2 linked regions of the Homo sapiens genome follow. The protein of the gene in region 1 interacts with the protein of each later gene in a pairwise test. Each region holds a gene or a part of one and is shown in the gene's direction. Other genes may lie near its edges.

Region 1 (7,572 bases):
GCCAACATGGTGAAACCCCGTCTCTACTAAAAATGTGAAAAATTAGCTGGATGTGGTGGCAGGTGCCTGTAATCCCAGCTACTTGGGAGATGTATATTGTACAACATGATGACCACTGTTAATGACAATTTACTGTTGTTATTATATATAATTGAAATTTGTTAAAAGTAGATTTTAAGTGTTATCATCATAAATGTTAAGTATGTGAGGTTATATATATATATATATATATATATATATATATATAAATTAGCTTGATTTAGCTATTCCACAATATATACATATTTGAAACATCATGTACACCATTAAAAAATTTTATTTTTTTTAAAGGCTGAGGCAGGAGAATCGCTTAAACCCAGGAGGCGGAGTTCACAGTAAGCCAAGATCGCGCCATTGCACTCTAGCCTGGGCAACAAGAGTGAAACTCCGTCTCAAAAAAAAAAAAAAAAGATTTTCAGAACAATAAAAAGCGAGAGCATTTACCTCAACAAAGTCTAACTTTAAAAAATTCTGGCCGGGCATGGTGGTTCATGCCTGTAATCCCAGGCATGGGTGTGGTGGTGCGTGCCTGTAATCCCAGCTACTTGGGAGGCTGAGGCAGGAGAATCGCTTGAACCCGAGAGGCAGAGGTTGCAGCGAGCTGAGACAGTACCATTGCACTCCAGCCTGGGCGACAAGAGCAAAACTCCATCTCAAAAAAAAAAAAAAAAAAATTCTGAGGGATATACTTCAGAAAGAAAGGATCAAAAAAGGAATTTTGGAGATGAACGAAGGAATGATGAGCAAAAAGATTGTTAAGCATGTATGTAAATCTCAATATACATTGACTGTAAATTCTATTTTTTTTAACAGCTGGAAGTTTTACAACTTTTTCTTCTGGTACTCATTTTCATTATATTTTCTCATAGAATTATATCCTGTTATATGCTCAGGCTGGTGTGCAGTGGCGCAATCATGGCTCACTGCACCGTCCACATCCCAGGCTCAAACCATCCTCGCACCTCAGTCTCCAGCTAACTTTTTATTTTTTGTAGAGACAGGGTCTTGCTATGTTGCCCTGGTTGGTCTTGAAATCCTGGGCTCCATCTGTCCTCACGCCTCAGCCTCCCAAAGTGTTGGGATTACAGGTGTGAGCCACCACCCCTAGCCTACTGATCATTCTTATTGGCATCAAAAATATGCACGTAAACTGACATTAATTTTAAAAATTGTTTTCTGTGACCACAGGGCTATTAGTGTTACATTTCTTCTGGATTTAATGATCATTACAATATTATTAGTCCACAATTGATTAAAACAACATGTATTATTTTAAATAATAATTATTAACATAAAAAGTAAAATTTATTGGAAAGACATCTCATTTTTGAAGTTTCAATTTTTTTTTTTTTGAATAGAGACAGGGTCTGTCTGTCTGTCACCCAGGCTGGAGTGCAGTCGTGTGATCATAGCTCACTGCAGCCTCAAACTCCCAGGCTCGCGTGATCCTCCCACCTCAGCCTCCTGAGTAGTTGGAACTATGAGTGCACACCACCACACTCAGCTAATTTATTTTAATTTTTTAAATTTTTGTAGAGATGGGGTCACCATCTTGCCCAGGATGGTCTTGAACTCCTAGGCTCAAGCAATCCTCCTGCCTTGGTCTCTCAAAGTGCTGGGGTTACAGGCATGAGCCACCATGCCTGGCCTCAAATATTTTTTAATTGACACATTGTAACTGCACATATTTACAGGGTACAATTTGATGTCTTGACACATATATGTTGTATAATGAGCAAATCAGTATTAGCATGCACTTATCATTCCTTTGTGGTAAGGACATGTAACAGTCGCTCTTCTAGCTATTTTATAATATACTGTATCTTACTATTAACCGTCATCACCCTACTGTGCAATATTAATACCCTAGAACTTATTCCTCCTAATTGTAATTTTGAGCCCATTGACCAAGCTCTTCTCATCCTCCCTACATTTTATTTTGAAGGGCAAAAAATATGATTATTACTGAACCGTTATATTTATGATAACTCTAGATTTTGTTGGCTTGGTTTCTCCTGTAGGTATACAGAAGATGGGTGTCCACATAAGAAATTCTTTCACACACGTTTTCTCATGCGAATGAGGTTAACACCAGATTGTTCCAAAATGTTGATTTCAACGTCCTCTGGATATCTCTTAATTTTGCATGACCTTGACTTAACTAAGTCTTTAGAAGTAGGCAGCTATCCCATTTTAAGAGCAAGAAGAACTACTTCAAGTTCAGGTAAGCTTTTCTTTTTTGGTCAAAAAGATTTTTCTCGAGAATCTCAAACATAGAGATGGTATAGGTTTCTTTTCTGAAAATGATAGCAGGAAAAGGGAAGACAGTTTTTTAAAAGGCATTCTTTAGAAAGCTCATTGATGGGTTTTTATCTAAGCAAGTATAATGATTTGTATGTATCTCTGACATATCATTCATATGTACCTCTGAATCACAAATGGACTAGGAGGAATAACTGCTGACCCTAAAGTATTTTCTTTTAGCTTTATGCTAGCCACAGGATCTTTTCATCAGTAATTTTGAATCATCACTATCTCAAAAATTAGTGATGGCACAAGGTCTTAAGTCCTTCTGGAATCAAGCAGAGCTTTTATTAAATTATGGTCAATATAGAGTTTTAGTTTTATCTGTATCCTAGACTTACAGATGTCCAGACACAGGTAGCTGGTGCCATCTTATCTCATTACTCTCTAAACGCTCTTTTGCTAAAACTCTGTCTCTTCTCCCATTGCTGATTTTGTTAGACTTAAGAGAATTTAGGGTTCAGAAAAATGTACGTATTGTATTTTATCAACATTATGTGATTTAAAAAAGACTATATTTCATCTACCTTTGGGAAAGAGGGGACTGGTGTGGGGACATACCCATCATTTACATTATAAACAAAAATCCAGGGGAAAAAAGACTTAAGCATTTGGAACATAGAATGCTAATAAATTGCTATTAAAAGGCAGCTTTGAATGGTTGGGGCCAGGTGCGGGGGCTCACACCTGTAATCCCATCACTTTGGGAGGCCAAGGTGGGAGGATCGCTTGAGCCCAGGAGTTGAACTCAAGGGTAGCCTGGGCAACATAGGAAGACCTCATCTCTACAAATAACTTAAAAATTTAGCCAGGTGCAGTGGCTCACGTTTGTAATCCTAGCACTTTGAGAGACTGAGGTGAGCAGATCGCTTGAGCCCAGGAGTTTGTGACCAGCCTGGGCAACATGGTGAAACCCTGTCTCTACGAAAAACACAAAAATTAGCCAGATATGCTAGCATGCATCTGTAGTCCCATCTACTCAGGAAGCTGGGGCAGGAGGATCACCTGAGCCTGGCAGGTTGAGGCAGCAGTGAGCCATGATTGTGCCCCACTGCCCTCCACCCTGGGCAACAGAGAAAGACCCTGTGTCCAAAAAAAAGGAAATGAAAAAAAAGGTTGGAATCTTTCTCCTTGTGCACAGGACCACTTCTGAAAATTCCTTTGGGAAAGTACAGACATCATTGTACTGCAGTGCCTGGCATAACTGTCAAAAGTAGAAATTTAAGTTTTACCAACTTACTTGCAAACAAGGGATTTCATAAATATACGAGTATAATCCTTTGAGATTCAAATTTGCCTTTTAAGTTAAACATGATAAGCAACTCTAACTTAGTGAGAAATAGTGATTTTGAATGTCTAGTTGGCCTATTTCAACTCAAAAACCAACAAGGTTTTCAGTTTTCTAATGGTAATTCTGATACTAAATAACATTACAGGAAATTAGACTAGTAAGAATTCTTAACATAGGTATGGGACCACTAGCAAAATGTGATGATGAAATAGACACTGCTATTTGGAGTAATATATCAGACTCCACTACCTGATACTCATTTTATTTTTTTCAATGTAAACTTTATGTCACATTTCACAGTATTCACATAAACTTGGCACAGTGGTGCATGCCTTTAGGCCCAGCTACTCAGGAGGCTGAGGCTGAGGCAGGAGGATCACTTGAACCCAGGAATTAGGAGTCCAGCCTGGGCAACATAGCAAGATCCTTGTCTCAAAAAAAAAGACTATTCACGTAATTTCAAGAATGATAATGGAAGTTTTTGGTATACTTTAAAGAAGAATCTCTTCATGTTTCTGGTAATGGGCCTGTTGTTTGGACCCTATTTTAACATAAAACAATAGGCTTAAGAGCTTAGTTTTCATTTTCATGGAATTTTTGGGTTCCATTTTAGTACAGAAATCATGAGGATCCAAAGACGCTCCTATGATTATTTGGTTTTTCATTTTTATTTCACATAGTCAAGTCTTTGATATAAAAGATTCAGAAAGGGACTAGATCTTAGAACACTTCAAAGAGCTGTCTTGCCTTCCTCAGTCTTATAGGCCAGTGATATATGAGCATTTTTTCAAAATTTTAAAACTATGGTTCGAGTAGATAATTAAAAAGTTAAGAGCCACTACCAGAGTTATGCTAGGTTTATTGTCAGAATTTTTTATATTTTTAAGATTTGACCACTTCATCAAGTTCATCTGGTCCTAGAGTTTCTGGCTCACCTTGTCATCATAGTGATTCTAATTCTTCTGAGAAACACATGTCACGAGCCTCTCAAAGAGAAGGTAGGTTAAAAGTTGGATTTTATAATCTTGTAACAACAGATTATGCCAATCTGATTAATTATTGATTGATTAAAACCAGTTTTATGGTTTTAATCCATAAAAATAAAAGCAATGGAGATGAGGTGATTTATCCCTCAGTCATCATCTTCAAAAAGCTAACCGAGAGTCCCTGGGGTTGAATATCTTGAGTTAAATCTTAATAGAACTTGAGCTTTGGTTTTATTAGCTGGACTTAGTTTGGTCTAGTTTGGAGAGGAAGTAGTTCAGAAATATAGATTTCAATCAAGATTGTTGTGAAAATTAAGTGAGATTATGCACGTGAAAGCTCTGTATAAATATAAGTCATGAATTTTCAGGTAATTGTGAAAGTCACCTGGTTACCCTCAGACTTTTTGCTCTGCCATTTCCTTGTCTGTGCAATGCCTGACAGCTTCCAAGGGTTTGTAGGATAAAGTGAGCTACCATCTGGCTCCTCTCTGTATTTCCCAGTTTTTTCCTAGCCATTCTGGCAGAACTAGTTGCTCTGCCCTATACCTTCCACCACACCCCCCCAGTTGAAATGGTTTCTGCCTATACAAATTCCACATACTGTTCCTCTTCATACTAACTGACGTCTAAGCTCTTATACCATTCATTGTTTATTCTTCTCTTTGTGAACTGAGTATTAAGAGCCAGAGATGGCTTGCTTTTTTTTTTGTCATTTTGGGTCACTTTTGGAGATAGACATTTCTCTACCTTGTTATTTTGGGCAGAGACTAAATCTTAGACTTCTAATTTGTGTTTTCACTGGGTGGCTTTGCCTAGTAGATGCTGGTTATCTTGCATGGCTACTTATGTCAGTAGAATGGTTTAAGAGCTCTTTCTAACCTATATGGCCTATCCACTTGCCTCTGGATATTGAAGTCTGTGATATTTCACTTTAAGGTTAAAGGCTCCTCCTCTTAAATTTAAAGATTTATGCCCAGAAGTATAACATTTTTCCTTTGATTTGTAACACAAACATCTTTTGCAGATTCTTCCTGTTCTCCTTCCACTTGTGCTATGGGAAACAAGTCAAGGCTTCTAATAATCATTGAGAAAAATCTTTATTGATTGACTACACCATCCACAAGAAAAAGAAACTTAATTTAAGAAGAATAGTTAACATGCTTGCTTGTTATTGACCAGTGGTAAACACACAAACACAAATATACAGCAGTTCTATGCCACAGAGAGTTAAGAATGAGGGAAGAGATGATATATGAGGAGGCTGGGAAGAAGAGGAAAATGAGAGGGTGAAAAGAGAGGGAAAACATGGGAGAAGGTGGGGCTTATAGGTGAAGTTGCTCTAAATGTTGGAAATCCTGGATCTTCAGATGTCAGAGTATGTTAACACTATCCTTTGGCAGATATAATAGCTGTATAGAGCAGAGGCTTTCAAATGCATTTCAGCATTAGAACTCTATTTTTGACATGAAATCTGCTGTGGATTCTTAGAGATGTAGCACAAATAAAATCAAAGTAGCTCTGGTTCAAGAAAAATTAGGGAGGCTCTTGACCCTCCAGCCTTCCCCACTCCATCTACACCTCAGCCCACACGTGGTTCCCCACTTTTGCCATCTCCTGAGGAACCCCAAAGGAGCACAGTTAGCAAACCACCTACTTAGAATGCATTTCTTGTCTGGTTTTGTTATAGGTTTTCCAAATTAATTCTTAAAATAAGAGTATATTTTTCTCTAAAATTGTTAAAGTTCAATCATATGTGAAATAGTTATTTCAGTATAGTTTTGTTATAGCAGTGTAATTTAGAGCTTCACAGGTTTCTGTTAATGATGTAGTAATCTGAAGGGAATCTTTAGAAAGAAGGTAACACATCTGCTTGACAAGCAATTCACAAAGGATCTGACAGAGGGAGCTCAATACCTTCAAAATAACTCCTTCCACAGTCAGAGAAGTGTTGAAATATTTCTCTTGCTATTAAATTTCTAAGTTGCTTCCTTACAGTGTCTATGAAAGTGGTTTTTCACGCACCTGAAGGATATAACATATTCCTATTATTAACAGTGCCTTACTCCAGCAGTCATTTTCATTGGGAGTTAGGTAGAAGGAAATGATGAGGCATAGTAGAGTCTATGATTGGCAATGTCTCCCATCCCTTGTTTTGACATGCCTTTATGTGAGGTGTCCTTTCTTACCTCCAACATTTTATTTTTTGTTTATAGTGTTGTTATTGCAGGTGCTTAAGTCCTGATCTTTTTATTTGCTTAAAAGGCAATCCTCATGGCTTCCAAGTATTTCCTTCTCTGGACCAGAAAGCACCAGGACCAATGAGAGGAGAATTGTTACCTTTTACCTTTCTAGAGTCCTTTCATGTCACATAACTTTGGTTCTTACTTAAATAAAGAGCTTTCTGAGATGTAAGATCCAAATAAAAGAACCCCTAGTCAGCTTCTATGCCTTAGCCTTAGGTCAGTGACAATTACTGCTGTGGGAACTTGGATCTTTTGTTCTATTTATACCCTTTCCCCACACCTTCACCCCGCCAAAACTCACACACCATACATTGGGGAGTACCACGCTCTTTAACATATGGTAGCATAAGGGGCAGACTAAGGAATGACGGCATGGGAGGTGGCTGCCAGAAATAAAAAGCTTTGATGAACTGCCTTAGTTTTTTGATAATACAAATCCCACATCCTCATTTTCTTATATCTCAGGAGTTTCACCACGAAATAGTCTTGAAGTCGTAACCCCTGAAGTTCTTGGTGAGAGTGACCACGGAAACTGCATCACGTCCTTACAGCTGCACCCAAAAGGCTGGGCCACTCTTCTTCGGTGCTCAAGCAACAGTGATGATGAGGAGGTACAGGCAGCAGCACTCCACCTTCAACAGGGCTCATTGGACAAATTGCCATTGCCGTGTGTGCAGAGCTTAGGCCGATCGCTGACTGCAGTCTCTGC
Region 2 (7,572 bases), on another chromosome or scaffold:
CACAAGATTTCTTCTCAAAGGTCTGGGTAGTTTTAAGGTGGGGGAGGTTGGGGGCAGAACCTGTGGTGTTGGGAACTTCCCACAAAGGCGATCAGGCCATTGTAAGCTGCTAGTGGCCTTTGTGGGCACAGTTGGATCTGCAGGGCATGGGCCCCCTCTGGCTGAGGCTGTGGTCTGTTTGTTGTTGGAGGCAGAAGTTGCTCATGCTGGGAACCAAGGCGGCAGCTGAGTAGGGGATGTGGGTGGTCTGGAGGGATTTGTCCAGTAGCTCTTGGGCTAGGCTTTTCTTTGCCACAGCTCATAGAGCCCAGCCCAGTGCTGCGGCTCCTGCTTCATGCCCATTACACACCTTCCGCTGTTCTTGTGGCCAGAGGCCCGGATGAGTTGTGCAGCCCACCCCTGCCCAGGTGGTGATCTTGTGCTAGGTTCTAGTCCAGGTCTTTTGCCTGTGGAGATGCTATGGCTTAGGGGTTGTCCTTGCTTACTGGGTGCATGCATTCCAGGGAGATGCTGTAGCACCTGAGGCCAAGGCCCTTTTGCCCCGCTTGTCTGAGCCCAGAGCCCGGTCCCCAGTCGGTGCAGCATTCGCAGGTGAATGAATGGGTGAACCTCAGCACGTCATTGACGTCGGTGGAGGACACGGCGCTCCACCCTGGTGGCCGAGGGTGGGCTGCCTCCCCTCCTGTGATCAGCAGTGTGTGTGTGTGTGTGTGTGTGTGTGTGTGTGTGTCTCATTCAGCAAATATTTATTTATTTATTTTGTGTGTGTGTGTGTGTGTGTGTGTGTGTGTTATTGTTTATTTTTTATTTCTCCAAACCTCTTTTTTTTTTTATTGATCATTCTTGGGTGTTTCTCACAGAGGGGGATTTGGCAGGGTCATAGGACAATAGTGGAGGGAAGATCAGCAGATAAACAAGTGAACAGAGGTCTCTGGTTTTCCTAGGCAGAGGACCCTGCGGCCTTCTGCAGTGTTTGTGTCCCTGGGTACTTGAGATTAGGGAGTGGTGATGACTCTTAACTAGCATGCTGCCTTCAAGCATCTGTTTAACAAAGCACATCTTGCACCGCCCTTAATCCATTTAACCCTGAGTGAACACCGCACATGTTTCAGAGAGCACAGGGTTGGGGGTAAGGTCATAGATCAACAGCATCCCAAGGCAGAATTTTTCTTAGTACAGAACAAAATGGAGTCTCCTATGTCTACTTGTTTCTACACAGACACAGCAACAATCTGATTTCTGTATCTTTTCCCCACATTTCCCCCTTTTCTATTCGACAAAACCACCATCGTCATCATGGCCTGTTCTCAATGAGCTGTTGGGTACACCTCCCAGATGGGGTGGCAGCCGGGCAGAGGGGCTCCTCACTTCCCAGAAGGGGCGGCCGGGCAGAGGCGCCCCTACCTCCCGGACGGGGCGGCGGCCAGGCGGGGGCTGCCCCCCACCTCCCTCTTGGACGGGGCGGCTGGCCGGGCGGGGGCTGCCCCCCACCTCCCTCCCGGACGGGGCGGCTGCCGGGCGGAGACGCTCCTCACTTCCTAGACAGGGCGGCTGCCGGGCAGAGGGGCTCCTCGCTTCTCAGACGGGGCGGCTGCCGGGCGGAGGGGCTCCTCACTTCTCAGACGGGGCGGCCAGGCAGAGACACTCCTCACCTCCCAGATGGGGTTGCAGCCAGGCAGAGGCGCTCCTCACATCCCAGACGATGGGTGGCTGGGCAGAGACGCTCCTCACATCCCAGACAGGGTGGCGGCCGGGCAGAGGCTGCAATCTCGGCACTTTGGGAGGCCAAGGCAGGCGGCTGGGAGGTGGAGGTTGTAGCTAGCCGAGATCACGCCACTGCACTCCAGCCTGGGCAACATTGAGCACTGAGTGAACGAGACTCCGTCTGCAATCCCGGCACCTCGGGAGGCCGAGGCTGGCAGGTCACTCGCGGTTAGGAGCTGGAGACCAGCCTGGCCAACACAGCGAAACCCCGTCTCCACCCAAAAAATACGAAAACCAGTCAGGCGTGGCGGCGCGCGCCTGCAATCCCAGGCACTCGGCAGGCTGAGGCAGGAGAATCACGCAGGGAGGTTGCAGTGAGCCGAGATGGCAGCAGTACAGTCCAGCTTTGGCTCGGCATCAGAGGGAGACCCTGGGGAGCGGGAGCGGGAGAGGGAGAGGGAGGGACAGCAAATATTTATTGAGTGCCTGCCATGTGCAGAGAGCACAACAGGCTGTGTCTCTCCTGAATGAGAGGAGCATGCATTCTGGTGGGGGAGAACACCAGAGAGCAGCTCAGCAGGGTGTGCCAGAGGCTGCTTGTGTGTGTAGAGCACAGCAGGGGGAGGGGAGAGGGCCGCCCTGACCCGCTGCAGGGAGGGAGAGCCGTGTGGGCATCGGGGGAGTGCAGGGCCAGGCTGATGGCACAGCCAGTGCAAAGACCCTGAGGTGGGCGCACGCTCAAGGGTGTCTGTGCCCAGCTGGGAGTCCAATGTGGCTGGAACAGCGTGTGCTAGCGGTGGAAGCAGGGGATGTGGTGACAGAGGTCAGGGGTGGGGATGGTGTGCAGAGCAGTCCTGTGGGGCCTGGGAGCCACAGGAGGACTTGGGCTTCCGCTCCAAGATGAGAGCCACTGAGGGAGGAATGAGGTCCAGCCTTTTTTTTTCTTTTAAAACTTTGACCTGGCAGTCAGCTTCTTTTGTTGTGTTTCCTTTTTTCTTTTGAAATGAGGTCTCTGTCACCCAGGCTGGAATGCAGTGGCACAGTCTCAGCTCACTGCAACCTCTGCCTCCTGGGCTCAAGAGATCCTCCCACCTCAGCCTCCCAAGTAGCTGGGACTACAGGCACCACCACTGCACCCAGCTAGTTTTTGTGTTTTTTGTAGAGACGGGGTTTCACCATGTTGGCCAGGCTGGTCTCGAACTCCTGGGCTCAAGTGATCCACCTGCCTCAGCCTCCCAAAGTGCTGGGATTACAGGCGTGAGCCACTGCGCCCCACCTGTTTCTTTGTTAATTGGAATTCCCCGTGCGTGAAAGTGGAGTGAGGAGGTGTGATACGCCTCCCCTGTGCCCATCATCAACTCCAGCCCCTGCTGTCTCCCATCTGTGCAGTTCTGTCTTTGCTCCCACCAGTACCCCCTTGCATGATGCTGAAGCCCCAATTTAAAAAACAGTTTTCACATCAGAAGGATTTTTGTTTGTTTGTTTGTTTTTGAGACATGGTCTTGCCCTGTTGCCCAGGCTGGAGTGTAGTGGCATGATCAGAGCGCACTGTTGCTTCGACCTTCCAGGACCAAGTGCTCCTTCCACCTCAGTCTCCCAAGTAGATGGGACCACAGGCATGTACTACCATGCCCAGCCAATTTTTTTTTTTTTTTTTTTTGAGATGGAGTTTCGCTCTTGTTCCCCAGGCTGGAGTGCAATGGCGTGATCTCGGCTCACTGCAACCTCCGCCTCTTGGGTTCAAGCGATTCTCCTGGCTCAGCCTCCCGAGTGGCTGGGATTACAGGCATGTGCCACCACACCTGGCTAATTTTGTATTTTTAGTAGAGACGGGGTTTCTCCATGTTGGTCAGGCTGGTCTCAAACTCCCGACCTCAGGTGATCCTCCCGCCTCTGCCTCCGAAAGTGCTGGGATTACAGGTGTGAGCCACCGCGCCCAGCCCCAGCTACTTTTTTAATTTTTATTTTTGTAGAGATGAGGTTTCCCTATGTCACCCAGGCTGGTCTTGAAGTCCTGGGCTCAAGTGATCCTCCCGCGTCAGCATCCCCCCACCAAAAAAAAACAGCTGGGCACCATGGTTTACGCCTGCAATCTCAGCACTTTGGGAGGCCAAGGTGGGAGGATTGCTTGAGCCCAGGAGTTCAAGACCAGCCTGGGCAACATAATGAAACCTTGTCTCTACAAAATGAAACCTAAAAATTAGCCAGTGTGGTTGAGCACACCTGTAGTCCCAGCTACTTGGGAGGCTGAGGTGGGAGGATTATTGGAGCTTGGGAAGTTGAGACTGCGTGAGCTGTGATTGCGCCACTGCATTCCAGCCTGGGTGATAGAGCTAGACCCTGTCTCAAAAAACAAAACAAAACAAAAAAACGGGGTCTCAGCCTATCGCCTAGGCTGGTCTCAAACTCCTGACCTCAAGCAATCCTCCCACCTTGGCCTCCCAAAGCACTGGGACTAGAGGTGTGAGCCACCTCTAACTTGAGGCTCTAACTAATTTGAGGCTCTAACTTGGCCTCAAATCAGGATTTTTTTTAAGAAAAAGTCCCCACAAGGCCAGGTGCGGTGGCTCACGCCTGTAATCCCAGCACTTTGGGAGGCCAAGGTGGGCAGATCACGAGATCAGGAGATCGAGACCATCCTGGCTAACACGGTGAAACCCCGTCTCTACTAAAAAAATACAAAAAATTAGCCGGGCATGGTGGCGGGCGCCTGTAGGTCCCAGCTACTCAGGAGGCTGAGGCAGGAGAATGGCGTGAACCCGGGAGGCGGAGCTTGCAGTGAGCCGAGGAGATCATGCCACTGCACTGCAGCCTGGGCAACGGCAAGACTCTGTCTCAAAAAAAAAAAAAAAGAAAAAGTCCCCACAAATACATGTGGTTGATGTTTCTGAGTCCCCCTACTGCACTTACTTTTTTATCCCCAGAAGTGGGCACTTTGACAGGGCCCCTGGCCACTGGGTGGGGACTTACAGGCAGAGAGACAGTAACCAAGGCCAGGTGCAGTGGCTCATGCCTGTAATGCCAGCACTTTGAGAGGCTGAGGCAGGCAGATGACTTGAGGTCAGGAGTTCGGGACCAGTCTGGCCAAGGTGGTGAAACACTGTCTCTACTAAAAATACAAAAATTAGTCGTACATGGTGACGCATGCATGCCTGTAGTCTCAGCTACTCCGGAGGCGGAGGCAGCAGAATCGCTGGAACCCAGGAGATGGAGGTTGCAGTGAGCCGAGATCACGCTACTGCACCTCAGCCTGGGTGACAGAGCAAGACTCCATCTCAAAACAGAGTAAAACAAGGCCGGGTGCAGTGGCTCACACCTGTAATCCCAGCACTTTGGGAGGCCGAGGTGGGCAGATCATTAGGTCAGGAGATCGAGACCATCCTGGCTAACATGGTGAAACCCCATCTCTACTAAAAATACAGAAAAATTAGCCGGGCATGATGGCAGGCACCTGTAGTCCCAGCTACTCGGGAGGCTGAGGCAGGAGAATGGCGTGAACCTGGGAGGCGGAGCTTGCAGTGAGCCGAGATTGTGCCACTGCACTCCAGCCTGGGTGACAGAGCGAGACTCCATCTCAAAAAAAAAAAAAAAAAAAAAAAACAGAGCAAAACAAAAAAAAGACAGTAGGCAGGCAAGGGGATGGGCGGTTCTGAAGGAAGAGCTGACCAGGGGGCTGGCGGAGGATGTGGGTGAGAGGAGGTAGAGCTGTCAGGGCTGGAACATGGGTTGTTTCCTGCCGAGGGCCAACTTCAGTAGGAGGAGGAGGCTAGCATGGTGATCACCCAGGGGTGGGCTGGAGGATCTGAGGAAGACGATGCCGGGATTGGGTCTTGCAGGATGAATAGGAGTTTCCTAACGGTGTGGAAGGGCTTGAGGGGGTGAGCAGCTGTCCCCATGGTTCCCTGCTCTGGCAGCTGACATGGGGTTCCACCTCCTCCCATCGCTGACTTTGGAGTTCTGTCCTGCCCTGGCCCTCTGCGGTCCTCACTGGGATGTTCACAGCCCACAGAGGTGACTGGCCTCCCTGTGTGTGCCTTCTCTCTAGGGAAGTACCACTGCCCAGTGCTGTTTACCGTGTTCACCAACAACACCCACATCGTGGCTGTGAGGACGACCGGCAACGTCTACGCCTATGAGGTGTGTCCTCGCTCCGGGGCGTGGAGACAGCGGTGGGGAGATCTCTGCTGTGTGTTCCTAGTATACACTGGCTGGGCTGTGTGCTACGTGTACGGCCTGTCCTCGTGGGGTTTACAGTCACAGCCACAGGCATGGTCATCTAGCAAAGCTCTGGCAGTGCAGCCTCCCCATTTTCAGGCAGGTCAAAAAAAGGGTTGGGGGAGGTGCATCCTTCGGAATCCAGGCAGTCCTGGCTGCCCAGCAGGGACCCTTAAACCCCAAGAGGTCCTTCCGCGTCTTCAGCAAAGCCCAGGTGCTGGGAAGGCACCCATGTTTTGAGGACAGGCCTCTAGGGCTGTGAGGGGAGTGCTCGCCCCGGATCTGGATGGAGTCACTTGCCCCCAGGAGGGAGCTGTCCCCTGGAGGAGTTCTGGCAGGGAGTGGGTGTAGGGAGAGGGGAGACAGCCGTGTTCACACATGGGTCCTCCTCTTGGGTGAGGCGGGGCAGGCCCCACATGGCGGGAAAGCCGACCTTTGCGCCGTTGTCAATCCTGCACCTGGACGTTTGTGGGGTGTAGGTGGCCAGCGCTGCTCCAGGGGCCTTGGGAGCCACTTCTTGCCAGAAGCCTGCACAAACTGGCATGGTCAGTCCTCGTTAGTGGAGTGAGGGCTCTGCTAGACCGCACCGCAGGAGTGCAGGCATCTTGTGTGCACAGCCCCTGCCCACGGGGGCCTGGCACCATACCTGTGCATGGGAGGAGCTTGGCAAAGCCTGCAGCGAGTGGGTGGGTGACTCGCTGAGTCTTTTTGCTGATCAATGTGCAGACAAGAGCTTCCTGCAGGAAGGTTGCTGCGAGGGTGAACTGGCTCATCGTCTGAGGCCCAGCCAGCTCCGCCTCTGTGGGAGCCACTGCTTTCAGCCAGTGGGGTGTACACTGCTGTCTCTCTCATTCCTCATGCCTCTCAAATCGTGCCATGGTCGGGGCCAGCTCCAGGCCTCCCTGCTTGCAGTCCCCTGTGCCAAGGCTTGGGGCAGGCATCGTAAAACCACTTCCTCCTGGCTATAGGCAGTGGAACAGCTAAATATCAAGGCCAAGAACTTCCGGGACCTGCTGACCGACGAGCCCTTCTCCCGGCAGGACATCATCACCCTCCAGGTGAGTGTCCCCTGCCTGCCTGCCCCAGCTGCCTTCAGCACCTGCAGCCAGCCCAGGCCTCTACAGGGCCCTACCCCCACGTCAGGGCCCCTCATATCTGTCCTCAAAGCCACCTGAGGCATCTGAATAGCCACTCTGCAGGCCTGGCTCTGCTTCAGCGCCTCGAGGGCAGGAGCTGGCATGAGCTCTGCAAAGACCCTGTATCTGGCACAGGGTCCCTGCAGGTGTCAGAGAACCCCAAGTGAATTAATGAAAAACACTGACTTAGAAAAGCAGGTGCTGGCTGGAGCGTGGCCTGCTGAGTCAATCACCTCTGTGGCTTGTCCCATTCTAACCAGAGGTCGGCCCACGGCTGCCCACGTTCCGGTCCGATAGCTCCCTAACAGCAATGAATGCTCGTTAGCCATGTGCCTGGAGGAAGGTCACAGCTCAGCCAGCAGCTAGCGAGGCTGCGTCCCCGTCCCTGCCCCTGCCCCTGTTTGCTGCCCTGCCTGGGGCAGACCACCTCCTCCCTCATGCCCTGCTTGACTCCCCCAACCTCAGTGTAGCCCTGGCCTCTTCCACACCTCTGACAGCTGGCCGTCCTTTGCTGCAT

The links. Proteins that work in one complex are often made in the same cells at the same time.
Region 2: the proteins of DCAF10 (region 1) and PPIL2 interact in binary tests that used the Homo sapiens proteins (3 or more experiments, as listed by UniProt).

Annotation. Positions count from the first base shown.
Region 1 is NC_000009.12:37,852,720-37,860,291, forward strand, and holds part of DCAF10 (DDB1- and CUL4-associated factor 10), read left to right. Parts: intron 1-2,060; coding exon 2,061-2,263; intron 2,264-4,521; coding exon 4,522-4,632; intron 4,633-7,328; coding exon 7,329-7,474; intron 7,475-7,572. UniProt on the Homo sapiens protein: May function as a substrate receptor for CUL4-DDB1 E3 ubiquitin-protein ligase complex.
Region 2 is NC_000022.11:21,675,550-21,683,121, forward strand, and holds part of PPIL2 (RING-type E3 ubiquitin-protein ligase PPIL2), read left to right. Parts: intron 1-5,749; coding exon 5,750-5,841; intron 5,842-6,887; coding exon 6,888-6,977; intron 6,978-7,572. UniProt on the Homo sapiens protein: Has a ubiquitin-protein ligase activity acting as an E3 ubiquitin protein ligase or as an ubiquitin-ubiquitin ligase promoting elongation of ubiquitin chains on substrates.